Regions from separate parts of the Homo sapiens genome. Here region 2 is linked to region 1. The links come from fine-mapping of genetic effects on gene expression. A gene starts in region 1. The other region holds a variant in brackets. All regions are shown on one strand. Distances are between the middles of the regions.

Region 1 (16,779 bases):
TTTAAATGAAGTCAGCTCTTGTGTGGTGGAGGCAAGATGTCAGTCAAGACAAGGGGCCTGGTCTAGGCTTCTTTCCCCTGAAGTCTTGTCTCTGCAATGGCCACTTCAGATGTTTATACTCCATTCCTCCAGGTCTAGCCCATATTCTGAAAAGGCAAGGCAATCCACCACTCAACAAGTATTCATTGAGTGCCAGCCATGCTATTGGGGATGAGAATAGTTCAGTGCATAAAAGAAAACAAAATCCCTGCCCCATGGGATTTACATCCAGTCATACTTAGCAGATGTGTGTGAATCTGGAAGCACCTTTTCTATAGCCTGACAGAATTCTTACAACAGGTGAAAACTACTTGCCTTGTCTTCGGGAGCCTTGTGCATTTGGATCTATCCTTTAACAACTAACCTTGTCTATCATCCTCACAGTCTGACTCTTTACTTCTGGGATAGTCCAACAGAGACTTGAGGAAATGTTTCCTTCTCTCTTTTTCCATTTTCCCAAATTTAAATTCATGAAATATATATAAGTTCTCTAAATTAAAAACAACAGGATATTTTACCAACTTTCTGTTCTGAACTAATTTAAAATTTATGTTTCCAATCCCCAGAGATATGAACTAAAAAGCCTGAAATAAATGTAGATCAGTCACTTGAGCTGACATATGAAGCAGTCAACTTTACTCTGAGACGTTTTGTTTGATCTTTCAAGTTTCTAAAAGTATTTGGAAGCGGGAAACACTGTTCTTCATATGAGATAAAAGGAAGAAAAAAGGACCTTATAGTCAGGCTCATTGTGAAAAAACTAATATTAAGATAAGCTGAAGCAATCAAATGAGAGCATTTGCAAATCACTTGTTGGAGGTAAAGCTGGAAGCCTATGTAGTTCAGGAAAATGGAAGATGAGATGGCTGAGATCCCACGAAAAGACCACGTCCAATAGAAACTGTAATAAAACAGAGCTCAGCTACAGGAATTTTCAATGATGACAAAATTTTAAAGACATGCTTCTACTTTTGTATTGACTAAAGATCTTCAGGTTGAAAGTGTCAAGATCTGCTTAATAGCATATCCTCTGTTGCAACATTCAAAATCATCAGGATTCTTAGATCTCAGTGAAAAATTGATGTTTGAAGAATAATTGAAGTATTCAGTCCATAAGGAAGCCTGAAGCTCCCTATACACCTTGAATTTCATGCTAAATAATCTGCAAGTTCTGGAAAATGCTGCTTAACTCTAGAAAAACTGACTAACCTTGATCTTGGTCAGCATATACTTGGTTCTTTACATATCACTTATCAATGGTCAGAAAGGGAAGAATACTTGAACTTATCTAACACAAAAATTCACAATTTAACCAATTGTTTCCCAGACACGAGGCTTACTAGAAGTGAGCCTTGTAAACTTTTATTTAGCTGCAATTTAAATAACTTTACATTTTCAGATATGTGTTGAAGACCCTACCAGATGCTTTCTTCCCCTTTGAGAAGAAGCAGGAAAAGAAAACTTTCTCTAAAGGGCAACTTGACTCTTTTCACACACTGAAGACTTTGGAAGCTGGTGGCAACAACTTCATTTGCTCCTGTGAATTCCTCTCCTTCACTCAGGAGCAGCAAGCACTGGCCAAAGTTCTTATCGGTTGGCCAGCAAACTACCTGTGTGACTCTCCATCCCACGTGTGTGGCCAACAGGTTCAGGACGTCTGCCTTTTGGTGTCGGAGTGCCACAGGGTGGCACTGGTGTCTGGCATGTGCTGTGCCCTGTTCCTGCTGATCCTGCCCATGGGGGTTCTGTGCCACTGTTTCCACAGCCCGTGGTACATGAAAATGATGTGGGCCTGGCTCTAGGCCAAAAGGAAGCACAGGAAAGCTTGCAGCAGGGACATCTGCTATGACGCATTTGTTTCTTATAGTGAGCAGGATGCCTACTGGGTGGAGAACCTTATGGTCCAGGAGCTGGAGAACTTCAATCCCCTCTTCAAGTTGTGTCTTCATAAGTGGGACTTCATTCCTGGCAAGTGGATCATTGACAATATCATTGACTCCATTGAAAAGAGACACAAAACTGTCTTTGTGCTTTCTGAAAACTTTGTGAAGAGTGAGTGGTGCAAGAAGGAACTGGACTTCTCCCATTTCCGTCTTTTTGATGAGAACAGTGATGCTGCCATTCTCATTCTTCTGGAGCCCATTAAGAAGCCATTTGCCTTAGTCAATCTGGGCTGCTATAGCAAAAATGCCAATAGACTGGGTAGTTTATAGATAAGAGAAATTCATTTCTCACAGATCTAGAGGCTGGGAAGTCCAAGATCAAGGTGTTGGCAGATTTGGTATCTGGTGAGGAACTCTTCCAGGCTCAAAGATAGCTGTCTTCTCACTGTGTTCTTGGTGGTGGAAGGGGTGAGGGAACTCTCTGAAGTTTCTTTTGGAAGGGAACTAATCCCATTCATGAAGCTTCTGCCCCCATGACCTAATCACTCATCAAAGGGCCCACCTCCAGTACCTCACATTGGGGGTTAGGATTTCAACAGATGAATTTCAGGAGGACACAGGCCTTCAGTCTATGGCTAGGATCATTCCCCAGCATTTCTGTTAAGCTGCAGAAGATAATTAACACCTAGACCTGCCTGGAGTGGCCACTAATGAAGCTCAGCGGGAAGGGTTTTAGTTAAAGAAAACTCCTAGTTTTTAGTTCGACCATTGTGGAAGACAGTGGTGATTCCTCAAGGATCTAGAACTAGAAATACCATTTGACCCAGCCATCCCATTACTGGGTATATACCCAAAGGATTATAAATCATGCTACTATAAAGACACATGCACACGTATGTTTATTGCGGTACTATTCACAATAACAAAGACTTGGAACCAACCCAAACGTCCATCAATGATAGACTGGATTAAGAAAATGTGGCACATATACACCATGGAATACTATGCAGCCATAAAAAAGGATGAGTTCATGTCCTTTGTAGGGACATGGATGAAGCTGGAAACCATCATTATGAGCAAACTATCACAAGGACAAAAAACCAAACACTGCATGTTCTCACTCATAGGTGGGAATTGAACAATTCCCACCTGGACACAGGGTGGGGAACATCACACACCAGGGCCTAACGTGGGGTGGGGGGCTGGGGGAGGGGTAGCATTAGGAGAAATACCTAATGTGAATGACGAGTTAATGGGTGCAGCACACCAACATGGCACATGTATACATATGTAACTAACCTGCACGTTGTGCACATGTACCCTAGAACTTAAAGTATAATAATAATAAATAAAACATATCAAAAAAAAGAAAAATGAGCTTGGGAGTCATCATGCCTCCTGCTCCCTTCCCCTGCCCCCAGCCCCCAGCCCCACTTCTGGCTGGGACCTTTGAAGAGTGCAGTTCCCTCTTCCCCATAATTCATTCTGTCCATCTACTCATTCCAACACACTTTTTGATCTGATTTCTATGGCTCAGCTCCAAGGTGCTTGCCTCAGTCCCCTGGCCCGCAGGAGCCCACAAAAAAAAAAAAAAAAAAAAACTCCTAGTTTTTAAAAGGGAAATATATACAACATGAAATATTCTGTTTTCAGAACTTGGTTCTATGTTAACTTAGAAGTTTACTACTATTATTTTGCATAGGCAATATTTTTGAAATGTCTTAAAAAATTACGGACATACGGACATCTGTGCAGAGTAAAAAAATTTTGAAGAATGTATGTTCATGTATAAAGATCTGTAAAATAATGCAGGATTTATGGCATATTTTCATTAAGTGGTTTTCGGTGGATGAGTTTCTTATTATTTCATCTGACAATTACAATATACTTTATGTGAAAAAGACATAGACTGTGTGTTTTGTTTTGTTTTTTCGAAACAGAGTCTCACTCTTATCTCCCAGCCTCAACACACTGGACTCAAACGATCCTCCAACCTCAGCCTCCTGAGTAGCTGGGGTTACAGCTACAAACCATCATGCCTGGCTAATTTTTGAATTTTTGTAGAGATGGGGGTCTCCCTGTTTTGCCCAGGCTGGTCTCAAACTCCTGGACTCAAGATCCTCCTGTCTTGGGCTCCCAAAGTGCCGGGATTACAGGTGTGAACCACCACGCTGGCCTTGTGTTTTCGGATAACTTTCAGATAACAGCTTAGGATTTCAGTTAGATGCTCAAAACTATGAATATATACAATGAAAGTTACCCTTTCCCCAAATATTAGTACATTTCATATGCCGTGTTGATTTTCTAACTTTAATCAACATTTTTCTTTTTTTTGGTAGAGAGTTATAGGAGGTCTTATATCTAGATACAGAAGGAGACTTGGAGTCTAACCTGGGATTTGCCACATGTTAACTGTGAGCCATGCGACTCTGGGCAAGTTCCCTAATCACTTTAACCAAAGGAATAGTAATATCAGAATTATTTATTGCATGTGTTATTGTAAGATTCAGATGAAATTCTAGATGTGAAGGTGCTTCAAAAATGTCAAGAACTAGGCCGGGTGCTGTGGCTCACACCTGTAATCCCAGCACTTTGGGAGGCCTAGGCTGGTGGATCACTTGGTGCCAGGAGTTCAAGACCAGCCTGGTCAACATAGCAAAACCCTGTCTCTACCAAAAATACAAAAATTAGCCAGGCGTGGTGGCACGCACCTGTAATCCCACCTACTTGGGAGGCTGAGGCAGAGAATTGCTTGAATCTGGGAGGTGGAGACTGCAGTGAGATGAGATTGCACCACTGCACTCCAGCCTGGGTGACAAAACGAGACTCCATCTCAGAAAAAAAAAAAAAAAAAAAGAAAATGTCAAGAACTGAACAAGTATAAGGACTGTGTCTGAATTGGACGTGCTAATAGCTTTGTGGACAGTGTACAACTACCTTCAATATATGCAGAGGACACTGATTTGTGGCTAAATAAATGATTTCTATCTGACTTTGCCAGACAATTCTAATTGACTTTGGGATTATAGAGCAATAGCATCAAAATCCACCTTAGGCAGTTCAACTAGGGAAGAGAAATAGAGAAAAAACAAGTTTTTAGTTTCAGGAGAAATAATTTGAAGGAAGTTTTCTTTTGTCAGAAATCACAAGGTAGAGAGCTGGAGATTTGGAATTAATAAGAAAGCATTTTCAGCCAGCTGGACAACCTGATGGTCAGGATAAAGAAAAATAGTAAGATAGTGACCTGTATACAAAAACCTCTCAATTTCATATTTAGGTCTATTGATTAAGTTTCCCTGATGTTCCAACCATCAGAGAGGATTAGGGATGTGGAACAGGGTAGGAGAAACAGCCCTGGATTTAAGGTAAAATTCTGGTTTCAAATCTCAGTTCTGTCATATGTTATACAATTCACATGACATTTTCTTGTGTAAGGGAGGAACAAGGATGCTTGCTCTGCTTCATATCTCACTTTGTGAAAATCAAATGTAATTATGAACATAAAAGGTAGATTATTAACATTAAGGCAGTTGAATTTTAAAAGCTTGTTTTCTTCCCTTATACATATTCCTAACCGTGGAGACAGCTAGGTTCTGTGGCAATGAAGAAAATTGATCAATGACTGTTTTTGGTATTACTTTGGGAAGTAGGGATGGAATAGGGGCAAGGGAAGGGCTTAGCTTCAAACTGTAGACAGAAGTGGGAAGCCCAAATCTTTGCATGGTGAGAAGTGGGATGGAATGTAGGTGCTAGAGATGGTGCACCAGTAGGGACTGTCACTGGATTGGGGAAAAAAATCCGGGGCTGTCCTTATCTGCTCCCTTAGGCAAAATCGTTCTGTGTTAGTCTGGAGGGTGAACCTATTTTAATGCAGGAGGGCATAGACTTTTGGGTGGAAGCGGACCCTGGAGATGTACTGGCAGGTGAATAGAGTGTGGAAAAGTGGGGAAAGGAGAAGCACGATTCATGAGCCTGAGTTCGGGCTTCCATGGATGGAAAAGCATCAGGAGTGGAATTTAAAGACGGTGTGTTTCAGGTGATGTGAGGTCCTGGATGCCCGAAGCTTCAAGAAAATACTGGTTGGGCACTTAGCTTTCCCTGTGGTTGCCAATCCCACGCAGGCCGCCTCTAGCGTCTCGATTCGCTTTTCTCTGACCTGGAACCTCCGCCAAGCCCCCAGCTCTCTTCTTCGACCCAGCCTTGCACGGGGCAGCTGTCGGGGCAGGACCCGCCTCTGGCCTGTCGCAGCCTAGCTCACGGTCAAGGGCGGGAGCCTGCTGGGAAGCACGGCCGCGGGGGCTCGCTCGGGGCCACCTGCCTGGAACTCAGCGCGAGGTCCAGAGTTCCCTCCGGCTGCGCAGCGGCGCACGTGCCCCGTGGAAGGGGCGGTTCCCGCACCCCAGAAGGAGGGGGCGCCCGGCCGCGCGGACTTTCCCTTTTGCTTACTTCCTAGTCCCGGGCAGGCCGGCTCGGAGGCAGCGAGAAAGCGCAGCCAGGCGGCTGCTCGGCGTTCTCTCAGGTGACTGCTCGGAGTTCTCCCAGGTACGTCGTGCGCTCCCCACTCGTGTGGTCTCTCTGCACCCCTTCCTGGGGTCGGGTCGGGCAGGGGCGGAGGGGAGCCGCAGCCCGGTCACGGGCTCTGGGGAACCCGGGCTCCCGTTCGGCTGCACCTGGGCCCCTAGCTCCTGTCCGGGCGGGGATAGCGGGAAGCGCACCAGGCCCCCGGGACGCCGGTGCTTCTTTGCACGGCCCAGCGCGGGAATGTGGACACCAGCGAAGCCGGCTCAGGTCGGCCCTCGGGAGAAGCAGGGGCTACACGGAAAGGGAGCCCGAGGGTCCTGCAGAGCCCGAGGTCGGGACCCCGCGCGTGCAGTGCCAATGGGCTGCGGCTGGGCTGAGCGCCCTTCCAACCTTGCAGGCCCCGGGGGGGTTGCCGCGGAGAGCTTCCGCTGGGGCTCCGGGCCTCTGGCCGCCACCTCCCTCGGGAGGCCGAGGGGGGCGGTGGCCCCGGCCCGGCCCTCCCGCTTCCCTCACGGCCTGGCCCTCCCGCTTCCCTGATTCCCGGTAGGGTCGCTCTCCCCGCCTCCTGGCCCCTCTTGGCTCGGATGACAAAGATTGGGTAAAGGCTTTCAACGAGCTAGCGTCTGGCAGGGGGTGTGTCCTCGCTCACTGGTTACTGCTAGGACGGAGCTTGGATTTTGGTCACCGTGGCTCAGAGGTGGGAAAGGTTCCGTGCTCTGGGTCTGTCCAGGACCCTGGCTCCCTAACCCAAGTCTGACCTCTGCTCCCTGGCAGGCTTCGCCCCACCTCTGCGTTCCTTCATTCTTAGGATGTGTGAGTTAGGTCTCTGATTAGAAAACAACTTACAGCGTTTAAGCAAAGTCGAGTCCTTCAAGTAAGAATGCTTTGAAGTGCCCTTTACAACTTCTTCAACTTCTATAAATATGAACTTGTGTTTAGAACTTAAATGCAAGCCAGGAAAGTCTTTTTCCTGTTTGAAAGAGAGAGAAAGAGAGAGAAAGAGGTGATTGGAAGTGGTGGGTGGGGGCGGAGAAAGAGAAGGAGAGTAATCTGGGTGTAGACAACTCAAAGTTTGCTGAGATGACTTTAATCTTTTGACTCTGTTATTAAGATTTTTACCAAAGAGCAACTGTAGCTATGGTGGCCTGACTTGAAGGGACAGACCAAACAAACAACAAAACACAAAACAAAACAAACAAACAACAAAAGCAAGAGCAGAAACTATTGGAAAATGATTTATTCACCAATATTTTAAAGGTTCTTCCTGTTCTAAGCAAGGAACATCTTTAAGTTCTTTATAATGTACCCATTTTACATTTACAAAAACTGCCAGAAGTTGACAGCATGTTTTGGGGGTTTCTAAGCTATCAGTTAATTTTTTGGGGTACAGTTTTATTGATAAACTAACAGAGTAGAAAAAATCTAATGGAATACCCCCAAATTTAAAAGAGGGCAAGAAAAGAGAGACAATAGAACATAAAACAAATGGGACAAGAATAAAGTACATAGTTGTCACAGTCCCTTGGGTGCTGCTGTAACAAAATACCTGAGACTGGGTAATTTACAAAGAACAGAAATTTATCCATTCATGGTTCTGGAGTCTGGGAAGTCCAAGATTGAAGGGCTGCATCTGGTGAGGGTCATCTGGCTACATTATAACATGATGGAAAGCATCACATGGTGAGAGAGAGCAAGAGAGGACAGAACTTACTTTTATAACAAACTCATTCTCACAATAAACTGCTCCCTTGGTGATAACATTAATCCATTTATGAGGGTACAGCCTTCATAACCTAATCACCTCTTAAAAGGTTCCACCTCTCAGCTCGCAGTGAGCCGAGATCATGCCACTGCACTCCAGCCTGGGTGACAGAGCGAGACTCTGTCTCAAAACAAACAAACAAACAAAAATTCCACCTCTCAACACTGTTGCATTGAAGATGAAATTTCCAATACATGAGCTTTGGGGCACACATTCAAACCATAGCAATAGTTCAATTACTTTAAAGCCCAAAATGTCAGTAATTATATTAAATGCAATTTAATACATCAGTAACTAAATGAGATAGACTAAATTTTATGATAATCAGACTAATATTATCAGACTAGACTTCAAAACAACCCAACAATCATATGCTGTTTACAAGAGACACATTTATGGATACTAAAAGGTATAAAGTGAACAGATGCAACCATTTATCAAAAGAAAGCTGTTGTGGCAATATTACTATTAGACAAAATAGAATTAGGAAAAAAATCATAACTGTAGATAAACGTTTCACTAAGTTAAAGGTTTCACTGAGAAGAAATAAAAATTTTGAATTTATAAGTACTTATAACAACATTAAGAAACTAGAAAATAGAAAAAGAATAGAGCCAAATTGACTGAACTAGAAAAATAGAAAATTCATAGAAAAATCCACAATCATAGTGGGAGATTTTATCATACATCTCTCAGTAACTGATAGAAAAACCAGACAAAAATCAATAAGGATAAAGAAAATGCGAACACAATGTAGTTCACATAAGGAACCTATACTACTTCCAACAGCAGCTGAAATCACAGAGCATACTTAAAATCTGACCATATACTGGCTCATAGAGTAAATTGCAATACATTTTAAAGAATTTAAATCATACAGAATATGTCTTCTGACCATAATGCAATTAAAGTAGAAAAGAACAGAAAAACTTATAGAAAATTCTCATATATTTGGAAATTAGTAAATTTCTAAATAACCCATGGGTCAAAAAATAATCAGAATGAAAATCAGAAAATATTTTTAATGACTTATGAAAAAAATTACATATAAAAACTTGTCAGATGCACCTAAACTGTTGCTTAAAGGAAACTTACAACCTTAAGTGCATATATTAGAAATGAAGAGTGACGAAAAATGAATGAGCAAGCAAATACCTTAAAAACTGGAAAAGGAATAGTAAAATAAATCCAGAGAAATCAGAACAGGGGAAATAATAATATAAGAATAGAAATTAATGTGCTAGAAAATAGGGGATCTATCAAGTCAGAAGTTGATTTTTTGAAAATGCTAATAAAAATGATGAACCTCTGGCAAGACAATAAAAGCTGGTACAAATAACTCATCTAAGGAATAAAATTGAGGACCTCTCTTTTGTTAAATGACATAAGCAGGAGGCCATTATCCTGAGACTGTCTCTACACTTTGAGTTCTTACATAATAAACTGCAACCTAATTTAGTATACTACATAAACAAACTGAAACCTAACTTAGGAGCTTTTTTTTTGTAATTAATAGCTAAATTTCCACCAAATCATAAATAGCCAAGCTTTAGCCAATCACAGGCAGCCAACTGATCAGACTATGCCCAAACAAGGTAAATGCCTATTACACCATACCCAAATAAGGCAGACTCCTAGCTGAAGCCAATCAGGTGATTACTATGCTCTTGTGTTTGGCCTATAAAAGCTCACTGCTCACACTGTTGGATGCTCTCTGAAACTTTTGTGAATCTGAGTGCTGCCTGATTCATGAATCATTCTTTGCTAAAATAAACTCTGTCAAATTTAATTTGTCTGAAGTTTCTCTTTTAACAGTGTTTGGTGTTGCAAGCAGGATCCAAAGGAGACCTATAGTGACTCCCAGGAGCTCTTAGTGACCAAGTGAAGGTACCTGTGGGGCTCATTGTGCCCATTGCTCTTTCACTGCTTTCAACTGGTAGTTGTGGGTAAGTTCCTGCTCAGACTTGAGCACTATACATTTGCATTTTCAGCTCTCTGACTTTATTTGAGCAATTCTTTGATGGATTGGCTCCAGAATTGGATTGGATTCAGTGAAGAAACTGAAACTGGACTGGTGCTCTAGGAGGCCTCAAGTAGATAAGGTTACTAGAAGACAGGGAATCCTGGGCTTATCTGGATTTAAGGAGTCTACAACTCCATCTGCAACTCCAGCCGATTTCATTTATAAGAATTATGGACCAAGAACCTGTGCTTTTCTAGAGAAATGTGTGAGCCTTACTAAAGGTAACTTAGAATTACAATGGACTGCTGAGACCAGCTCGGTCGTGGAGACCCTAACCCAGCAGCGCTAGAGGAATCAAAGACACACACACAGAAATGTAGAGTGTGGAGTGGGAAATCAGGGGACTCACAGCCTTCAGAGCTGAGAGCCCCTAACAGAGATTTACCCACATATTTACTGACAGCAAGCCAGTGATAAGCATTATCGCTATAGATTATAGATTAACTAAAAGTATTCCTTACAGGAAACAAAGGGATGGGCCGAAACAAAGGGATAGGCTCTGGCTAGATGTCTGCAGCAGGAACACGTCCTTAAGGCACAGATTGCTCATGCTATTGTTGTGGCTTAGGAACACGTTAAGCGGTTTTCTGCCCTGGGTGGGCCAGGTGTTCCTTGCCCTCATTCCAGTAAACCCACAACCTTCAGCGTGGGCGTCATGGCTGTCACAAACATGTCACAGTGCTGCAGAGATTTTGTTTATGGCCAAATCTGGGGCTAGTTTATGGCCAGGTTTGGGAGCCTGTTCCCACATGTCCCCCTTTTTTGTTTTGCAAAGCAATAAAAGCAAAGGCAGCTTTGTCACAGTGAGCTACTTCTTGCAGGAGTCGGGATTCGCATATGCATACTATACAAAGACAAACAACACAGATTAAAAGCACAACCATCATTGAAATCACAGAGCTTCCAAGTGTCTTTATCTATTTTAATGGGTTAATCACTGCTAATCTGTCTGCAGCTCCTTCAAGCACTCCAGTTCCTGGCATTAAGGTCTGGTGTGCCTGGAATGCTTTAAATATTTGTTCTTTTAATATTGCAATATGGAAAGACAAGTTTGTAGAGTGTCTTCTAGGTGCTTTTTTATTCTTTCCTGAATTTGGTCTTATTTAAGAGCCATTAATAGTTTCCACAAATCCTTATGTTTAGCTCCTACAGCGGGCCATATCATTTGAGGGTGAGGTGCCACTATACCATCATGTTTCCAGATAATAGGAACTCTTGCCATATTTCTTGCTATTTCTACCATCTGACCATTTTGTTTAGACCAGCTAAACATAGTGTGGCCATGGCACGCAGACTGAGAGGTGCAATTTAAGCTAAACATCCCCTTAGGGGACCAATCAATAATGATTCCATAGGAATCACTGCGCAGCACCTCTGCCTATTCTGCAATGCAATCTTCCCAAACAAGTATGTTCATTATTTCTGGCCAGGTCCAATTCTGTTTACAAATAGGTTTTTGAGGGCAATATGCCTCAATTATAGAAACAGATTTATTATGGTAAATACTGAGATCAGAAAGCATGTGTAACTGTGTCATAGAATGATTACATCCAGGCATTATTGCCAGCCAAGATTGATAAATATGCCCAATAAGTATAATTGTTCTCTGTGTTAGCCCTTGTTGAAGGAATACTAATGGCAATGGTGATCACTGCTATCATAGCTATCATTAAATTACTCATTGTGACTGGTTGTCCCACTTTCCTCAGGTTTTCTTCCACCCTCTATGGCAGTTTCTTGATCTGTCCCCAGGTAGATGGCTGTGTTTGATGGTTGTTGCTCGTGATAGTTTGGGTCCTCCTCAGCATCAGTCTCGACATGGCTGCAACCAGAGGGTCCTCGGGATCCTCCCAGAATCTCTTCCTTGGCATCTGGCTCATGATAAGGTTTCAGGTGTCTTGATGGTATCCAAATCAGCTATTGATTCTGGCCTGGAGAAACACAAGCATAACCTCTACCCCAAGTTATTATTTTACCTATTTCCCAACTTTTTGTTGTCAGATCTCTGCACCAAGCCAGTTGTTCTGCTTCTGTTTTTGCAGCTGGTTTCTGTAGATGCTCTTCAGCTGCTGATAGCATCTGGCCTTTAGGCAGGCTCAAAAAATTTAAAGTCATTAATGCTAGATTCAGTTGTATATGGGGTGTCCTGTAATCCCTGTTTCCCCTTTTTGCTTTTGCAACTGCTGTTTCAGGGAGAGATTCATTCTTTCTACAATGGTTTGTCCTTGAGAATTATATGGGATGCCAGTAATGTGTTTAATATTCCATATAGAGAAAAATGTAGCTAGAGCTTGGCTAGTATAGCCTGGGGCATTATCTGTTTTAACAGAAGTTGGAATTCCTATCACCACAAAACACTGCAAAAGGTGATGCTTAACACATGCAGTCTCCTGATTGGCATGTAGCCCAGACAAAGTGAGAAAAGGTGTCCACACATACATGTACATAAGCTAGTCTCCCAAACGAGGGAACGTGTGACATCCATTTGCTAAAGATAATTAGGTTCCAATCCTCGAGGATTAACTCCTCCTGTTAAAGATGAGGAATGCACCATTTGGCAAGTTGGGCATCACTGGATAATAGCTTTAGCTTCTTTCCAGGTACTGTTATATCTGCATTTGAGACCAGAGGCATTAACATGGGTTAAATTGTGAAAGTGTCTAGCATTAGATATTGCAGTAGCAACTAGGCGATCAGCCATTTGATTCCCTTCAGTTAAAGGTCCTGGAAGAGGTGTATGAGCCCTAATGTGAGTGATGTAAAAAGGGTGCATTCTACTCCTAAATGCTGTTTGCAATTGGGTAAATAAAGTCATCAGTTGTTCATCTGTATGAAGTCATAACTGAGCATTTTCAATTAATTGTATGGAATGAACCACATAGGAAGAATCAGAAATCACATTAATAGGCATATCAAAAGCAGTCAATACCTCAATTACAGCTAAAGCTCCACTTTTTGAGCTGAAGTATAGGGCGTGTGAAAAACTTTACCTTTTGATCCAGAATAAGAGGCTTTACCATTACAAGACCCATCTGTAAAAACATTCTCAGCACCTTCAGTTGGTTTAAATTTAGTTATTTTGGGGAGAATCCAATTAGTTAATTTCAAAAATTGAAATAATTTCATTTTAGGAAAATGATTATCAAGAATACCCACAAAGTCAGCTAAATGGGTTTGCCAAGTAAGACTATTTATAGAAGCTTGCTGTATTTGTGCCTTTGTGAGAGGGACAATAATTTTTCCAGGATCATATCCATGTAATTTAACAATCCGAATTCTCCCATTTCTTATCATCGTAGCCATTTGATCCAAATAAGGAGTTAGAGTCTGTGAATTAGTATGTGGAAGAAAAAGCCACTGTACAAAGTCTTGCTCTTATACAATAACACCAGTAAGTGAATGCTGAGTTGGAAAAATTAGCAAATCTAGGGTCTTTTTTGGATCTATTCTATTTATTTGAGATTTATGGATTTGCTTTTTGATTAGCTGCAGCTCTGCCTCAGCTTCTTTTGTTAATTGCTGAGGGCTAATGAGACTAGGATCTCCTCTAAGGATAGAAAATAGATTACTCAGGGCATAGGTGGGAATGCCTAGAGCAGGTCATATCCGATTAATGTCCCCTAGTAATTTTTGAAAGTCATTTAATGTTTTCAATTGATCCCTACGTATAGTTACTTTCTGTGGCACAATGGTAGTGTCATTTACTAAGGTCCCCAAGTAGGAGTAAGGAGTAGTAGTCTGAATTTTGTCAGGAGCTATATAATTAAACTGGCATGAGAAATCGAGTTTTGCAAGTGATCATAACATTGGAGTAATATTTCTTGAGTGGGGGCAGCACAAAGTATATTATCCATATAATGAATAATGTAACACTGTGAAAATTTTTTACGAGTAGGTTCAATTGCTTGCCCTTCATAAGTCTGGCAAATTTTTGAACTGTTTCACATGCCTTGTAGCAACACTTTCCAATACAAATGCTTTAGTATGCTGCAGGTTTTTTACTGCAGGAATTGTAAATGCAAACAGTTCACAGCCTTGCTCAGCTAAGGGGATAGTAAAGAAACAGTCTTTTAAATTTATGACTATTAAAGGCCAATTTTTTGGAATCATAGCAGAAGAAGGCAGTCCCGGCTGCAATGTCCCCATAGGTTGTATAACTGAATTAATGGCTCTTAAGTCAGTTAACATTCTGCATTTACCTGATTTTTTCTTAATTACAAAAACTGGAGAATTCCAAGGGGAAAATGTTGAGCTATGTGTCCTTTTTCTAATTGTTCAGCAACTAAGTCCTCTAAAGCCTCCAGTTTCTCTTTACTCAGCAGCCATTGTGCTATCCAAATTGGCTTATCTGTTAACCATTTTAAAGGTATATAGGTTCTGGAGGCTTAACAATGGCCACCATCAAAAATGATATCCTAAACCTTGGTGGGAACTTTGTCTTTCCGCTTGAAGCATTTCCTTCAAAGCTTGCAAATTTTTTCCTAGTCCCATACCAGGGACATACCCCATTTCATGCATCATATGTTGACTTTGAGGGCTGTATAATTATTCTGGAATTAGAACTTGTGATCCCCATTGTTGTAATAAATCTCTTCCCTATAAATTTATAGGTACAGAAGTTATAATTTTTTGTATAGTCCCAGGTTGTCCATTGGGCCCTTCACAATGCAAAATATAACTACTTTGATATACTTTAAGGGCTTTACCAACTCCAACTATGTTAAATTGAGCAGGTTGAATTGACCATGCAGATGGCCAGTGCTGTACAGAAATGATTGAAATGTCCGCTCCTGTATCTACCAAACTTTTAAATTTCTTTCCCTGAATAGTTATTTCACCAGTAGGATGTTTATCAGTAATTTGATTCACCCAATAAGCTGCTTTGCCTTGTTTATTTGTGCTTCCAAATCTTCCTGTTCATTTAATTTCACTTTTCCCCATTTCCACATATGGCATAATCAGGAGCTGTGCTATATGCTCTCCTGGCTCTGCTTTCCAGGGAACAGAAGTAGATATAACAATTTGAATTTCCCCTTTGTAATCTGAATCAATGACTCCTGTTTGTACTTGCACGCCTTTTAAATTTAAACTAGACCTACCTAGAAGTAATCCTACCATCCCCGCTGGCATCATCTGACTGGAGACAGCAACCTTCTTTAACAGTCCCATTACAAAAGGAGAACCTGTTCCATATGGATTAATAGCTTGTTTAAATTCTTTGAGTAATTTAAAAGGAAAAGGCTCAAATGTAGCTATAATATTTCCCTGTTGATCTACGGGGTATATTCTAACAGGGAACTGCTAAGCCTCTATATCACCCTCTCTTCTAACTTGCTGAATTCCTGGCTGAATAGAACTGAGAGTGGTCGCTCGAGGTGCTGCTCAGTCACTGGGGCGACTACTTTTTGCCCAGTGTCCTCTGGAAAAGAAAGATCTGGAGGATCAGGCTACTCTTTTGCTTCGAAATAATGAGGGGGTGCAGAAGGGTAGGGACAAACCTCTCCCTCCTTTGCCACTTTAGCTTTAGCTGGCAAACAAACCTGCTCTGTCACCTCTTCTGTTACTTCATTATACTTTCCTTCCTCCTCATCTTTAGTGTGAAAAGGTTCCAAGGTGGAATGAGCTAGAGCCCACACTTGCCCATTGTTACCCTGATGCTTCCGAGCTCCCCTTCTTACTCACCATGGGGATTGCTTAAGAGTACTCGGGTATCCTCCAGCTTTGTTCCACGTTTTCCAACCATTGCTCCAGCGAGCCTTCATCCTGGGTTTGAGTCCCCACGTTGGGCGCCACTTGCCGAGACCAGCTCGGTCGTGGAGACCCTAACCCAGCAGTGCTAGAGGAATTAAAGACACACACACAGAAACATAGAGTGTGGAGTGGGAAATCAGGGGATTCACAGCCTTCAGAGCTGAGAGCCCTGAACAGAGATTTACCCACGTATTTATTGACAGCAAGCCGGTGATAAGCATTATTTCTGTAGATTATAGATTAACTAAAAGTATTCCTTACAGGAAACAAAGGGATGGGCCAAAACAAAGCGATGGGCTCTGGCTAGATATCTGCAGCAGGAACACGTCCTTAAGGCACAGATCGCTCATGCTATTGTTTGTGGCTTAGGAATGCCTTAAGTGGTTTTCCATCTTGGGTGGACCAGGTGTTCCTTGCCCTCATTCCAGTAAACCCACAACCTTCAGTGTGGGCGTCATGGCCATCACAAACATGTCACAGTGCTGCAGAGATTTTGTTTATGGCAAGATCTGGGGCCAGTTTATGGCCAGATTTGAGGGCCTGTTCCCAACAGTGGACAAAGAAGAAAAGCTGCTTAAGGCAAACAGGCACATATTTTTTAAAGCTACAATAGCTAGACAAACTAAGAGAATCCTGTGTATGTTTTACTTTTGTATTTTTATTTTTAATATTTGTGGATACATAGTAGATGTATATATTTATGGGGCACTTGAGATATTTTGATACAGGCATACAATGGATAATAATAACATCACGGTAAAAGGGGTATCCATTACCTCAAGCATTTATCCTTTCTTTGT
Region 2 (16,779 bases), 24 kb after region 1:
TTCTTTGTGGCCATAAATTGTACAGCTCAGGCCTTTATAGTCTCTCAGATTCTGTGAATGTGGGGAATTAGTTTTACTCATAAAAAGTTTTGTTCTTGGGGATAAATTTTTTAAAAAAATTTTTGTATAGTTAGCACACTGAGAAAATACAGACAAAGGCATACAGATGCAAGAAATGAGGTAGCTGAATAGACCAAAGAATGATATAGGGCCCAGAAGGTAGGCAAAGAGAAAGTTGTTGGGTTTATGGTTACAAGTAAACTAGCAGTTGTGGTGCAGATAGTTTTATTTCCCCCACATTAATCTGAACAGCCCATCCAGACTTAAACACTGCTTTTTGCATTTACTTCTAGGCAGGAAGACAGGGTTCTGATGGTGTGAGTCTCCTTCAACTCAGCAAACCACCTTGGTCTGCCTCGAGTTTCCAACACCCCTCCTGCCTGCTAGTGATAGGTGTGAGGCAGGTTGATGAACATGGAACTTTTTTCTTTTGGTCCCAAAGCATGCTACTCCTGGAGTTTCATTCAGTGAATGAGAACTATAGTTTGGTTCTGTGAGATCTCTATGAATCAAGGCGGCCACTGAAGCGGAGAAAAGAAATGCTTAAATGTTAAGAAAGTTTGAAGTGCAGAAAAAGGTGATTGTAAATCCATATGGTTAAGCTTAGCCCATTTCTTAAAAGGCTTGATTGCTCATTCCTCCATTCATTGATTTACTCACTCTTCCAATCCATGTTATTGAGTCTTGCTCTGTAATTCCGGATGGTTGTGCTTTTAAGTACTGCATAGTGGTTGTATGTCTGTGTTAGCATTGCTGAATGTATCAGGGAATTCATTTTTTTATCCCCATTCATTCGTTCCATTCATCTGTTTCTCTCTCTCTCTCTCTTTGTGTGTGTGTGTGTGTGTGTGTGTGTGTGTGTGTGTGTGTGTGTTATGCCTAGAAAACATTTCTCAAGAATTAGAATTACGATATGCTGTCAAACACAATGACTTATTTGAACCTCTTTTATTTGTAGGTTGAAGCACTGGACAATGCCACATACTTTGTGGATGGTGTGGGTCTTGGGGGTCATCATCAGCCTCTCCAAGGAAGAATCCTCCAATCAGGCTTCTCTGTCTTGTGACCGCAATGGTATCTGCAAGGGCAGCTCAGGATCTTTAAACTCCATTCCCTCAGGGCTCACAGAAGCTGTAAAAAGCCTTGACCTGTCCAACAACAGGATCACCTACATTAGCAACAGTGACCTACAGAGGTGTGTGAACCTCCAGGCTCTGGTGCTGACATCCAATGGAATTAACACAATAGAGGAAGATTCTTTTTCTTCCCTGGGCAGTCTTGAACATTTAGACTTATCCTATAATTACTTATCTAATTTATCGTCTTCCTGGTTCAAGCCCCTTTCTTCTTTAACATTCTTAAACTTACTGGGAAATCCTTACAAAACCCTAGGGGAAACATCTCTTTTTTCTCATCTCACAAAATTGCAAATCCTGAGAGTGGGAAATATGGACACCTTCACTAAGATTCAAAGAAAAGATTTTGCTGGACTTACCTTCCTTGAGGAACTTGAGATTGATGCTTCAGATCTACAGAGCTATGAGCCAAAAAGTTTGAAGTCAATTCAGAATGTAAGTCATCTGATCCTTCATATGAAGCAGCATATTTTACTGCTGGAGATTTTTGTAGATGTTACAAGTTCCGTGGAATGTTTGGAACTGCGAGATACTGATTTGGACACTTTCCATTTTTCAGAACTATCCACTGGTGAAACAAATTCATTGATTAAAAAGTTTACATTTAGAAATGTGAAAATCACCGATGAAAGTTTGTTTCAGGTTATGAAACTTTTGAATCAGATTTCTGGATTGTTAGAATTAGAGTTTGATGACTGTACCCTTAATGGAGTTGGTAATTTTAGAGCATCTGATAATGACAGAGTTATAGATCCAGGTAAAGTGGAAACGTTAACAATCCGGAGGCTGCATATTCCAAGGTTTTACTTATTTTATGATCTGAGCACTTTATATTCACTTACAGAAAGAGTTAAAAGAATCACAGTAGAAAACAGTAAAGTTTTTCTGGTTCCTTGTTTACTTTCACAACATTTAAAATCATTAGAATACTTGGATCTCAGTGAAAATTTGATGGTTGAAGAATACTTGAAAAATTCAGCCTGTGAGGATGCCTGGCCCTCTCTACAAACTTTAATTTTAAGGCAAAATCATTTGGCATCATTGGAAAAAACCGGAGAGACTTTGCTCACTCTGAAAAACTTGACTAACATTGATATCAGTAAGAATAGTTTTCATTCTATGCCTGAAACTTGTCAGTGGCCAGAAAAGATGAAATATTTGAACTTATCCAGCACACGAATACACAGTGTAACAGGCTGCATTCCCAAGACACTGGAAATTTTAGATGTTAGCAACAACAATCTCAATTTATTTTCTTTGAATTTGCCGCAACTCAAAGAACTTTATATTTCCAGAAATAAGTTGATGACTCTACCAGATGCCTCCCTCTTACCCATGTTACTAGTATTGAAAATCAGTAGGAATGCAATAACTACGTTTTCTAAGGAGCAACTTGACTCATTTCACACACTGAAGACTTTGGAAGCTGGTGGCAATAACTTCATTTGCTCCTGTGAATTCCTCTCCTTCACTCAGGAGCAGCAAGCACTGGCCAAAGTCTTGATTGATTGGCCAGCAAATTACCTGTGTGACTCTCCATCCCATGTGCGTGGCCAGCAGGTTCAGGATGTCCGCCTCTCGGTGTCGGAATGTCACAGGACAGCACTGGTGTCTGGCATGTGCTGTGCTCTGTTCCTGCTGATCCTGCTCACGGGGGTCCTGTGCCACCGTTTCCATGGCCTGTGGTATATGAAAATGATGTGGGCCTGGCTCCAGGCCAAAAGGAAGCCCAGGAAAGCTCCCAGCAGGAACATCTGCTATGATGCATTTGTTTCTTACAGTGAGCGGGATGCCTACTGGGTGGAGAACCTTATGGTCCAGGAGCTGGAGAACTTCAATCCCCCCTTCAAGTTGTGTCTTCATAAGCGGGACTTCATTCCTGGCAAGTGGATCATTGACAATATCATTGACTCCATTGAAAAGAGCCACAAAACTGTCTTTGTGCTTTCTGAAAACTTTGTGAAGAGTGAGTGGTGCAAGTATGAACTGGACTTCTCCCATTTCCGTCTTTTTGATGAGAACAATGATGCTGCCATTCTCATTCTTCTGGAGCCCATTGAGAAAAAAGCCATTCCCCAGCGCTTCTGCAAGCTGCGGAAGATAATGAACACCAAGACCTACCTGGAGTGGCCCATGGACGAGGCTCAGCGGGAAGGATTTTGGGTAAATCTGAGAGCTGCGATAAAGTCCTAGGTTCCCATATTTAAGACCAGTCTTTGTCTAGTTGGGATCTTTATGTCACTAGTTATAGTTAAGTTCATTCAGACATAATTATATAAAAACTACGTGGATGTACCGTCATTTGAGGACTTGCTTACTAAAACTACAAAACTTCAAATTTTGTCTGGGGTGCTGTTTTATAAACATATGCCAGATTTAAAAATTGGTTTTTGGTTTTTCTTTTTTCTATGAGATAACCATGATCATAAGTCTATTACTGATATCTGAATATAGTCCCTTGGTATCCAAGGGAATTGGTTGCAGGATCCTCGTGGATATCAAAATTCATAGATGATCAAGTCCCTTATAAGAGTGGCATAGTATTTGCATATAACCTGTGTACATTCTCCTGTATACTTTAAATCATCTCTAGATTACTTATGATACCCAATACAATGTAAATACTATGTAAATAGTTGTACTGTCTTTTTATTTATATTATTATTGTTATTTTTTATTTTCAAAATTTTTAAAACATACTTTTGATCCACAGTTGGTTGACTTCATGGATGCAGAACCCATGGATATAGAGGGCCAACTGTAATCTGTAGCAACTGGCTTAGTTCATTAGGAAACAGCACAAATGAACTTAAGATTCTCAATGACTGTGTCATTCTTTCTTCCTGCTAAGAGACTCCTCTGTGGCCACAAAAGGCATTCTCTGTCCTACCTAGCTGTCACTTCTCTGTGCAGCTGATCTCAAGAGCAACAAGGCAAAGTATTTGGGGCACTCCCCAAAACTTGTTGCTATTCCTAGAAAAAAGTGCTGTGTATTTCCTATTAAACTTTACAGGATGAGAAATACTAGAGGGTGTATTTTCATGTGATCTGGATCTGTCTTTCTGGCTATTAGATAGGTTTCTCCAGCCATAGTTACTTGAGAGAGTGAGTACACAGTGCAAGGTACAGTAAATTATGTATTTCTGTAATTTAACAAAATAAATACTCAGTTTAGGAGAATTTGAAAGACACTTCCCACATCCGGACTCTGGTCTTCCTCAGCCTCTAACTACCTTTTGAGTTCTAGTTATTGTCCAATCACTCTGACTCTCAGTTCCTGTTTTTTAGCCTATATCTCCTGCATCTTGTTGCTTTTTCCTTCTTCGAAAAGTCTTGTTTTTAATTCTAAAAAAGCCTGCCCTTTTTCCCCTTCTGAATATTTTAAAAAGTACATGTGAGCTAAATAGATTTTTAAGCAAATATATACCTAGAGTTTCCTCATAATGACTCAAAAATAGTTTGATACACAGTAATTTAAAGGTAGATACTACTACCATATGTTAATTTTGCAATCTAGGTATAATAATACCACACATTAAATTTTGATGCAACTTTCTTTGGTAAGCACTATTTGCTGATTCTATGTAACTTTCTTAAGCTGGGAACCATGTGAAAGGAAGTGAGCCTTTGACCCCTGCTCAATTCTCAACCAGAACTGGGTGTATGTGGTTAATTGGGCACTAGAGTCAGAAAGACCTGGGTTAGTAGATGTGTAATCTTTGGCAAGTCAGTTGACATGACCCAAAAAGTTTTTCTGTCTTTAAAATAGGGATGATGATCTCTATATCCTAAGATACTGAGAGTATGAAATGTAGGAATGTAAGTAAACCATGAGCCTAAGCTCCTTGATTCCCATTTTCTCTGGAGGGGTGTTGAGGGCAAGAGTACCACGCCTAAGAGAATGGGCACTATGGGTTCGTGTGTGGGGTGAGGGTGATGTCTGTAGTAGATGTTAGCTATTATTATTATTTTCCAAGAAGATATTTCATTCCCTTATATATTATGGCTTGTAAGTGGATATTTTTCTGTTATGGATACTAGCAGGGATATAAGGGATCCTGCTGTTTGCAGAAAAATACCACAAAGAAATATATGCTCATTAACTGCAGAACAAGCTTGTCCTTGGGGAACTCGCATAGGGCTGCTGCTGTTTCACACGACCTCCCAGAAGAGTGTTATGGAGGAAACGGTAGCCAGCCTTAAAAAAAATCAGGCTTGGTGTAATCCCAGCACTTTGGGAGGCTAAGGCAGGAGGATTGCTTGAGTCCAGGAGTTGGAGACCAGCCTGGGAAACATGGCAAAACCCTGTCTCTACCAAAAAATACAAAATATTAGCAGGGCATGGTGGCATGTGCCTCTGGTCCTAGCTACTCGGGATGCTGAGGTGGGAGGATCACCTGAGCCCGGGAGGTCCAGGCTGCAGTGAGCTGTGATTGCACCACTGCACTCCAGCCTGGGTGACAGAGGAAGACACTGTCTCAAAAAAACAAAATGAAACAAAACAAACGAAAAACAAGTTTAGAGGAAGGAAACTTGAGATTCCACAGACACCAAATACAGTAATGGACTTTCTGCTTTACTTCTCTGTTTCCATGTTAATTATGAGAACAAGGTAGATTTAACATTGACTCGATCTATGTTTAATTTCAAGAACTTAAAATAGCAACTGAAATAGCTTCATAGATAATTGATAGATTTAAAATAATATTTAAAAAATAATCTTTAGGACGGACGTGGTGGCTTATGCCTGTAATCCCAGCACTTTGGGAGGCTGAGGTGGGAGGATCACCTGAGGTGTTGTGGTGCCTATTCACATTAAAGGTGGATCTTCCTTTCCTAGTCCACTGACTCAAATGTTAATCTCCTCTGGCAACACCCTCACATACACACCAGAAACTATACTTTACCAGCTATCCAGGCATCTTTCAATCCAATCAAGTTGACACCTAGTATTAGCCATAATACTCTCCAATCTTTTTTCAGTGTACATATACACACTACTTTACAAAATTGGGATTAGATTGTAAATACTTAAATTTTATAAAGAAAATGGCATCTTCATTTTTTTCTGAGGCTGTTTAGTGATTATCTGACATTCCTGAACTCTGAGGGTCATTGTGAATCCCATTCAGATAAATACTGGCTTATTTGCCGAGAGTTCTAAATGGTTCTGAAAGCTGCCATTGTGGCTATACATAAAAGATAAGTGGGAACTAAATTAGAGATCAGTTTAAGGGTTCTTTTTTTTGTTTAACAGGAGAAAAACTAATTTTTTGTTAGTGCTTTATCCAAATGTGAAGTCTTTTATTTGTCAATAGACTATAAGCTCAAGAATCTTGTTTTATCTCCCTACCCCTTGAACATGCCTACTATATAGTAAGTATTGAATTATTGGGATGTTTTCAGAGTAGAGAAATAAGCAATTAAAAATTCTATAATCTGGATGCTGAATCAATCATAATGAGAGAGGAGAAAATGAAAAATCAGTTCGGTAGACAGCTAAGGCTAGTCTTCAGAGAAGCAGTCTGCCTGGAAAATCACAGCTACAGGCAAAAATAGAGCAGCCTGGGGAAAACTCAGACTGTACCTGCACAGATAAGCAGGCAAGGTCCAGCACAGAAGCCTTTTGTTCTTTGTGTGATTAGCAGGCTCCCAGGAAAATGTTTTCTCCCCTTTTCAGATATGAACACGGGGGGATCCATGGGAGATTGCACTGGAAACAGAGGGGGTTTACCTAAAAGAAACCCACAATTACTCAAACAAGAAAAAACTATGCTTTGTGCTTACCTAGAGACATCTCACAGCTGTATAGGTAGGTGGAGTTGTGCAGACAGGTTTTCAAATAAGAGAAGTTACTCAAACAGCTACAGAGATGAGAGGAGTTTCTTATAAAAGCTTTTGCATTCAGCTGTAAAATGGCACCCCACTTGGGCTCTCCTCTCCACTGTGGAGAGCTTTCTTCTTTCACTTACTAAACTTTTGCTCCAACCTCACCCTTTGCATTCATGCTCCTTAATTTTCTCAGTCATGACACAATAAGTTCAAATAACACCTTAGACAATGAGACAATGGACCCTGACCTATTTCAATAATACTGAAGCATTGGGCAGTTTGAAAGAGGAAAGTTCTCAACAGTAAGAAATTGTAGTGTGAGTTATCTTAATGATGGACCTTTGAATAGCATTAAGTATAGTGCCAATATCTGAACAAGGAAAATAATCATTGTATTTCCTTTCTACTTCATACAATTGTAATGGCTTCAAGTATTGCAGAGTAGATGTCTGGTGTTAAATGTATACAGTGTTGACTATTTTAAAAATGACCAGTAATTCAAAACAAATTAATTTTGAGAGTCCAACATATCATTCATGGGTTAATTCTTTCTGACTGGTCTTCTCTATTCAGTTAATTTTGTTCCCTTCTGCCAGATTAATTTACTCTTTCAGCAAATATTTTTTGAGTGCCTCTTATGTGCTAGGCAGTGCTCAAAGTGCAGGGGATATGGTAGGGAACAAAACATAAAATTCCTTGTCTTCATGGAGGAGAAGACAATAAATTTATGATAGGATTTCGGGTATTGAGAAGTACTATGAAGAAAATAAAAGCAGAGTGCCACAATGGAATGACTGTGCACGTGTATGTGTGCACGCGCACGCAGAGTGGAACAAAAGAAAAGTGATTCTTCTTGCTTTAGTACAGCTGTTGCATGGGTTTGAGCACTTTTGGCAGCTCCAGGAAACCCAAAGTACCTGTGGCCCATTGAGAAGGTGTGGCACCTGCTGCCAGAGGCTTTGGGAGTAACCCACTTTCTACAGAAGAGCTCTGTGGTGCAGAAGCTGCCACATGGTAACAAGCACATGGAGCAGAAGACAAGCACAATGTCCTTGACCATAGATTACTTAACGACTCCACCTACTTTAAAGATGTTGAACTGATGAGAAAGTATTAGCTATGGCTAAATGTTGTGTGTGAGAAGTACTTTGCAAACCTCTGAAACACTTTACAGATATTGTTATCAGTCAAACTGGAAGTAGAATGTCCACAGTGCAGTGTAACAAATGTGACATGTGCATGAGTTAAGAAACAGCTGTAATGGGAAAGATGAAAAAACATGCTTTATTTGTTTATTCCATTGTTCAGCTTCTCTTTAAATTCTTTCCACATGGACAAATTGCTTGACAACAAAGTTTACTTAGTTTTCTAAACACTTGGGATCATCTCTAAAATTAAAAAAATTAATATTAAATGTTGGACCAAGGATTTCAACCATGCAGTATGTTGCTTCTGGGGTCTGCTGTCCTATTCCAGCCCTAGTGAATAGATAATGCCTTGAACTATTCCTATCACCACAGGTTGCCAGGCCACCAAATAACGAAGCCAATCCAGGATTTGTCCATACAGAAAATGTGTGCGCTCCCAGCTAAATCTCAGTTAAGGAGGTTGTTCTATATACAGCCAAGTAGCAGAAATATTCATAAATGTCATTTGCAAATATAATAAACAATGTAATGAATGGGTATTTCCTTTCTTGTTAATTCTATGTGCTCAATTAAAAGCCCCTTATGTGAGTTTTATAGCATTATGGTTGTCATTGTTACTTACACCACACCCAATTCCTGAAAATAAATTGAAGTTCTTTACAATAAAATCCCAAACTAGAAAACAAGAATCAAAGGCAAGGGTATATGCTAAAAGAAGGAAGAAGAGGGGAATGACTATATTGGAAAACCAAGGATAGTGGAAACTGCTCTAAATGAGCAAAAACAGCTCTGGGCTTTCCTGTAGTCATACATTAGAATGAACCCATTGTATATTACAAAGAATAACACTGGTTCATCAGATAAGAGAGACCTTTTTCTGCTGTCTTTGATAAACTGTGCTAGGGAGCTTAATGAATGCATAGTGTCTCCGACAACAATTTTACAAACAAAATGACAGCTTTTTCACATGTAGTTTTTTCTTATATTGAGTCTCAATAAAAGAGTAGTATATGTTTTATTCAACAGTTTATTTTCTCAAGACTACATAAAGAAATGAATGACCCTTTGTTAAAGTATCACTTGAGGTGACATTTATGATCATATTATCACCAATTTTATAACAAAGATTTATGCATTGAGGTTTTATAGGTTAATAACCAAAAACTGTTCTGGACTTGGTATCCTCATTTTAGAAGAGGAATTCCAGGACAGTGGATGAACAGGAAGGTGGAAGGATCATCACACACTTTTAGCCTTGAGTTGGGCTTGAGTGGCACTGACTCACCGAGAAAGGCCAGGTCTGTGGATGGAGTGGGCACTGCAGAGGGTGGTCTCTTGCAATGGTATGGGCCTTGAGACCCAAAGATCCACTGATGTTGCCTCCTTCTCTGATGCCCTCCTTGAATCCCTCCCTGATCTGCAGTGCCCAGAGATGAGGGCATTGCTGCCAGTAGCCATTGTTAAACCATACGTATAGGGTTGGTGAGGAACAGGGGAGCAGGAAGCAAGGAAGGTGATTCCTTTAGCATTGTAAAATTTAGCTATTACTTAGAAAGTACAGAAAGGCTGTCTCTTAGAGAAGAGATGGTACTTGGCAGGTTGATGCCAACCTTTCAGGACTCTTCTGCTTAAGGGA[G/A]GATATGTTTTAATTCCATTCCCACCCTGCTTCCTGAATGAGATATACTATGGTCTTGAGATAGTGAGGTTGAAGACAAAGTCTTTCTAGTTAGCTCCTGATGGGGGCCATTACCTTCCTGCGACCTTAATGTGACTTGAATTTATTCTGTTGCACACCTCTGATGTCTATACAAATCTCAGTGGCTGCCAGAAGCTGATCAACTCTGTAAATCTTTATTTATTTTCAATATTGTTATCACTAGTGTTTGGCCTAAGAAGAGATGATGCATGGCATGGAATTTAAAAAGCCAAAATCCAGACGGGGAAATACCTACTCATTTCTGGGAATAATAAAATTTGGTACACCCTAACATATTTTAAAAATAGTTTTCTGTACTCTAGTTCACATTTCGGCTTTTAAAATTTCAATTCCAATTTTTCTATTTATGCACCTATCTACCCACCCATCCAGTTCACTCATTTATTCATCCATCCATCCATCCTGAATATTCTTCCATATATTTTACCTATTTTTTGCAGTGTCTCATCACATTTCCACTACAGCCCTTAATGTGGAAAATATAGAACATAAAGAGTGGAATGTTTTCTGGCATTTAACTTTCTAACCAGAATAGTAATATAGGCACAGAGGAGAAAAGAGACCATAAGTCATTTTGAAATAGGTGGTTAGGGAAAACAAAAAATTTTCTGCTGGAACTATACAAAAACACTGAAACTTTTCATTGAAGAATATATCCCCAGAAACATTCAAGATAATCTCTTATAACCTTTTTGTTTTAAAGGATATGGATTACTGATCATCCTCTTCAAATCAACTTTCTCTTTGCAGTAAGGGCAAGTCTGCTTTTTCCCAACGATACACCAACCTCGGATGCAGAATTCATGAAAGCTGAAGCATCTTGTTAGGGAGGCTTCTAGATATGAAAAGGCAATGTCTGGTTCATGATGGCATGGAATGGTCCCATCTTCAGGGTCTAGTGGTGGAGTCATGACTTGATGAGGCACATCGCTTTTTTCGGGAGGTTCTGTAAGGGACCTGACAATGACAGTGAGCCTGGAGTCACAGCTGCCTTCGCTTTATGACCCTGAGGAATTTACTTAGCTTCTTGGCCTTCTTGCCTCACTTGATTCTGGTAAGAATTAGATTAGATAAAGAATATGAGTCCTTTTTTTTTTTTTTCCTTTACAGTGATGTCTTCCATAAGTGTATTGTTATATTTCCCCACCTTGTTATTGTGCGTTTCTCAGGCATTTACCGTAGCATTTCTCTGTTCTACTTTTTGTGCATTATTCTTTAGCTTCATGTAATCAGACTTGTCTTAGGCACTTAGACAAGTTAAAATTATTTGTGGTCATAAAGTTACAAATATTTCCATTAACTTCATAATTTTTTTTCTTGACTTTTAAAAGTACTGATAAGGAGCCAATTATTTTTAATAGAATATATACCTACTAAACTTAACTTCTCAAACTCTAGGCATTTACAGATCCATTTGTATACGTCTCCTGGTCCAGAAAGTCTGACCCTTTGTCCCCAAACTTGAGTGAACCCTATGTGTTCTCACAGCACCAGGGACTTACTCTAGTGTAGCAGGACTTTTGGTACTTACATGTTTCTCCTAGACCATGTGTTACCTGTAGGACTATGTCTCATTCATTTCAGTGTCCTCAGCACCTTAAGCCATGCCTAAGAAATATTTATTGAATGAACATTTGAATGACTCTTTCAAAACTGATTATTTTTGGGAATATATATTTCCATGTTCCCTGATACTATGGATTTGGGCAAAATGAACTATAATGAAATCCATCCTACTGATTTGTTTATTTCTACAATCGCTGCTCCCAATGTGACTTTCTGGGCCAAGATCACATGATCTTCTGACTGGCCTGCTACACACCCAGGTGAACAGCAACGATGTAGAAGTTCCCTCCCTAACAAATGGAGGAGCTTGGAGGTGTAGCAAGTCAAGGCCATGTATATAACTCCTCAGTATTAAATTTCAATGTAACCAGGAGTTTCCATTATTTTATGTTCTTGGAATTGGGGTCATTTTTGCAATATGCTTTAAAATAAAGTGGTGTATTATAACGAAGATTTTGAACCAAAACTCAAACAGCCTTTCATTCAAAAGGGCTGGAATACAGCCCCATCTTCTACAGAGGTATAGAATTCAGGGGCCATTGAGTCAGCACAGAAATGTCCACATTCTCTCTAATGTTCTTTTTCATTTTCAAAATCTCAATGCTGAAAAACTTGCACACTGGCAGAACTTCTGCAGAGCAAGACTCAGATAACCCATCCTTGTTAATATGACTCATATTTGCCCATTTCTCACTAATATGACTCATGCTAAAATGGGCCATTAATAATACTCCCTGAAAAGCAAATTTAAAGGTGACTACATTTTAGATTATATATGCACACATGTACAACAATCCCTAAGGGCTTTTAAAGGTGGAGAGAGAAAACATTTCCATTTGCAAATGGCAGAAGGGGCTCTGTTCCAACATTTGAAAAATAAATCATATTTAAAACTAGGGCCAGACTTGGAAAATTGCTACAAAGAATGAGTTTTTTGGGAAAGGTATCACACTGAAAAAACCACTACAGAAATCCATATGGGGTATCTTTGTGTTTCTTCCCTTAAGATTTTAAGGCTTATGTATTGGAGTAAAGGCTCCTATTACTTTTGAGATGCATTTGGTCCTGGTTTTACTTTCAGGATTGAATAAGTGGAAACTGTCCAGATTAAACAGAATTGAATCATAGGTACTGGACACCGAGGTATGACTGACTAAATTAAGTGGGCTTTAGGCAAAAGACAGATGGTTTAACCATCTCATAATGCCAGAGCTTTGAACTAACTGGGTACATAGCGATGACATTATTAAATTGATACTGTACTATAAAATAAAGATAAATGATACCCTTTTTTGTATTTAGGAAGAATTAAAATACTGATGATTGGCCAACCTAAGCCTAACTTTGGTATCCATAGCAAAAGTAGTGTCCATACATGTTCAGGCAACACAGGTTGATTTGTTCAGGGGTCTCGATGCCAGCATTTTTCAGCACATTGAGGCTTTCCTTAATGGTTACTGGAGTTCACATAGAATGCTGGTTTCCAGGCTCAGGCTGTCTGGTACCTATCATATGAAGATCCCTCAGCCAATGGATAGCTATTTGGGATAGAACCCATTGGTGGAGGAGCCCATGGTCCAAGAACAAATGTCCAAATTTTGGTCCCTGCTTTTGTAATCCAAGGTGTCTTGCTGCCTGTGGCTGTATCTTCTTCTAAAGACTGAAGCTGAGAAGAAGGCTTGGTTTCCTCCCTTGGCTGCCCCCAAGACTACTGTTGCCACAGGTAGGTTCCTAGGATTATTTCTAGGCAAAGCACTCTTTGTATTTCTTGATCTGCTAAGATTCAGACCTTGGGCTCCACTTGGATAGTCTTAAGTTCCCCCCTGCACCTGATACTTCACTCTTTTTCTCACCTCCAAACCCCTTCTTTCCCTGATCTTTGTTGGCTATCTGCTCACTTATGACTTCAACCAATTTCCCCTGCCAGCACCCTGCTCAGATACTGCCTTCCTGTCTATGTGGCATTAACAGTCCTCTTTAGAAAGGAAATTACTGGAGGAGGAGGTTCACCTTAATTAGCAGTTCATTATTCAGCAGGGACAAACAGGAAGACTCGACTGGGCTGGAGGATAAAGGACTGGGGTTTGGGCATGGAAGGTAAGCAAGATGGAGGAGATGGGGACAGGAGGAGGAGGAGGAGAAGGAGGAAAGAAGGAGGCTTGATGAAGCCCAAACAATTTCCTTTGAAAAGGATACACATGATTACAGGAAAGCTGGTAGGTGTTTTCAATGAGCCCTTCTTCATCAAGCTCCACAATGATCTTCTGCCCACAGACTGCACAGATATTGTCCGATAAGCTCCTTGTAGGCAACCGGCTGACACTGTAGAACTATCAGAGGAAATGGACAGAGCACAGTCAGAAAGGAGAGCACATGCCACTCTCTGAATGCAGGAAGCCACTGCCAGGCACTGGGACAGGCAGCCCTTGGCACATAGAATCTCCACTGCGGCCGGGCATGGTGGCTCATGCCTGTAATCCCAGCACTTTGGGAGGCTGAGGCAGGTGGATCACAAGGTCAGGAGTTCGAGACCAGCGTGGCCAACGGGGTGAAACCCTGTCTCTACTAAAAATACAAAAAAATTAGCCAGGTGCGGTGGTGGGTGCCTGTAATCCCAGCTACTCGGGAGGCTGAGGCAGGAGAATCGGTTGAACCCGGGAGGTGGAGGTTGCAGTGAGCTGAGATTGCGCCACTGCACTCTAGCCTGGGTGACAGAGCAAGACTCTGTCTCAAAAAAAAAAAAAAAAAAAAAAAGAATCTCCACTGCTTCTAAGATAGTTTAGAATGTGAGACACCGTTTCCTGTAAGAAGAATGCTACAGAGGGGTTAAGGTTTCCAGGCAAAAACTCATTGAATTCCAAAGGGACCCAAAGCACATTGCCAATTATAACTTCTCATCTAACCTCCACATTGAGGAATCCTTTCACAGGAATCGTTTTTATCCAGGGCTGGAGTTAAGAGGAAGCTTCAGAGGAAGCCTTTGAGTTTAATCCATAGATTGGCCCTTCCCTTTATTGTCCTGGAGATTCTGATTCAGATCTCTGGAGTAAACCGAGGCATCTCTCCGTCATTTAAATCCCCATGTTTTTATTGGGTGCATGCTGAGCAATCACCATTAGAAGGCAATGCATTTAGAACTTTACTTTGGGATATCTGCATCTTCCCGTACTGTGGATAAGGAGTGGTTCTCAACATTGGCAGCATATTAGAATCCCTAGGAAGCTTTTTTTTTTCCAAAGAAAATTATTTTATAATAGTTTTAGATTTAAAGAAAAGATACAAAAATATTACAGAGATTGGCTATATACCACATATCTAGTTTCCCTATATTATTATTAGATTGATTTAAAGGAATTGGCCCACACATTTGTGGGCAAGTCAGAAATTTGCAGAGCAGGTTGGCAGGCCAGCAGGCTGGAAACTCTGGCAAGATTGATGTTGCAGTCTTGAGGTAGAACTCCTTTTTCTCTAGGAAGCCTCAGTTTTTGCTTTTAAGGCCTTCGACTGATTGGCTGAGGTCTATGTAGAATATTAAGGATAATCTCCTTCAGGTAAAGTCAATTGATTATAGATATTAATCATATCTGCAAAATACCTTTGCATCAACATGTAGACTAGTGATTTTGCCAAACAAGTGGGTATCATAGCCTAGGCAAACTGACTCTAAAATGTAATCATCACAACCTCGTTAAGGGAGGAGAATTTATATAAATTATGTGGAATTCTTTTGCACAGATTTGACTATTCTCTTCCACTTATTTATTTATTCAATCATTTATTTGATATCAATGTGGACTCATGGATATTTATGCTTTGGGTTATAACCCAATACTACTACTATTACTATTTTGTTGCTCAAATTCCAGCTTTGGCCATTGGGAGCTCTTTCAGTTGGCTCCTGTGTCTCTTTGACATATCCCCAATCACTGTGGAGTTCTTTTGTTTTGTTTTTAGCATTTTCTTGCTTTTGGTCACTACGAGATGCTCCAGGCTTATATTGTGTATTCTTTGCCCAGACCTATAATGAGCCATTTCTTCAAGGAGTGCCAGTTCCTTTTATTGTAGAATGATATTAGAAAACAAGATCTGGACACTATGTATGTTCATTGTTGCTGGGGTGTCATTGCCCCTAGGACCTCTTAGCTGACAGAACAAGGAATTCATCTGTATATACTAACACACACACACAGATACACACACAAACACACACACACACACACACATACATATCTGTAAATATTTCTATATCTATCCATGTATATCTATATTAAGCTAAACAATTACAATTACAGAATACATGTATGGTGGTATCAAAATTGTTAACCCATAGACTTGACAGCAATAACTTTATCAACTAGAGTACAGTGCTTATGACACAGTTTCTTTTGTTTTTAGTCTTATGATCTCCATTCATTTCAAAGTTACTTAGGTCAGCACCTTTTTTCCCACCCCTTTCAATGACATTATTTCATACATTTGTAATATGGTTAGATTCTTTTGGCATGATCTGAATTCTACCCTTGGATTCTCTGACTTCCTAAATTATTTTTAAAATTTGCATAAATTTAAGGTTCACACTTTCTATGGATTTTGAGAAATGTATAGTGTTATATATCCACCGTTATCGTATCACACAGAAGAGTTTCACCACTCTACATTTCCTGTGCTTCACCTATTCAACCACGCTCCTTCCCTAAAGCCTTGGCAACCATGGATCTGTTTAGCAACTCTATAGTTGCGCCTTTTCTAAAATGTCAGATAAATGCAGTCATACAGGATGGAGTCTTTTCAGACTGGCTTCTCACACTCAGCAACATGCATTTAAGATTCACCCCATGGTTTTGGATGGCTTAATAGCTCATTCCTTTCCTAAGGAGTTTTTTTTGTTTGTTTGTTTGTTTGTTTGTTTTTTTTTTTTTTGAAGCAGATGCACTGGATCTACTCCCAGAGATTCTGATTTACTTGCTTTGGTGTGGGGCTTAGGCACTGATACGGGAATGGAGACTGTATGTCCTTACCTCAGTCACAAGCACATGCACAAGTGTCTGTGGACACACACACACACACCCCTTATTAATCCAAATCACTGGTGGCTGTACCAATGGCTTGAGGCAGTGGTTTTTATAGATTTGGTCGCTGGAATAAACAGACAGGATGACAAAATGTTAAGAACTGGTCGGGTTGGATCAGGTGAGAAGTTTCCCAAAAGCTGGTGCTTAAAGACTTGGTTGTCTTGCCAGGTAAAGTCTCTTCTTCTTGGTCCACTTGAGAACAGCCACATATAATTCTAATCTTCCTTTTCTGTCCATAAACACAAGAG

What was found. PIP is the estimated chance that this variant, and not a neighbour inherited with it, causes the effect.
Region 2: its variant is the best candidate, but not a certain one, in a credible set for the expression of TLR2 in whole blood (INTERVAL, PIP 0.73).

The regions. Positions count from the first base shown.
Region 1 is chr4:153,677,897-153,694,675 of GRCh38, forward strand. It overlaps TLR2 (toll like receptor 2), which reads left to right and starts at 6,384. Exons shown (of 3, transcript NM_001318789.2): 1 at 6,384-6,464; 2 at 10,006-10,151. It also overlaps the pseudogene LOC100419170. RefSeq lists silencers at 6,102-6,281, 6,562-6,651.
Region 2 is chr4:153,701,874-153,718,652 of GRCh38, forward strand. RNF175 (ring finger protein 175) reads right to left here. Exons shown (of 9, transcript NM_173662.4): 7 at 13,656-13,789; 8 at 10,602-10,703; 9 at 8,287-8,616. The coding sequence ends at 8,496. It overlaps TLR2 (toll like receptor 2), which reads left to right. Exons shown (of 3, transcript NM_001318789.2): 3 at 1,019-4,387. The coding sequence starts at 1,035. The coding sequence ends at 3,389. Among named protein-coding and RNA genes, the nearest start is that of TLR2, 26 kb to the left of the region's middle. The variant G/A (reference allele first, on the strand shown) is at 9,813.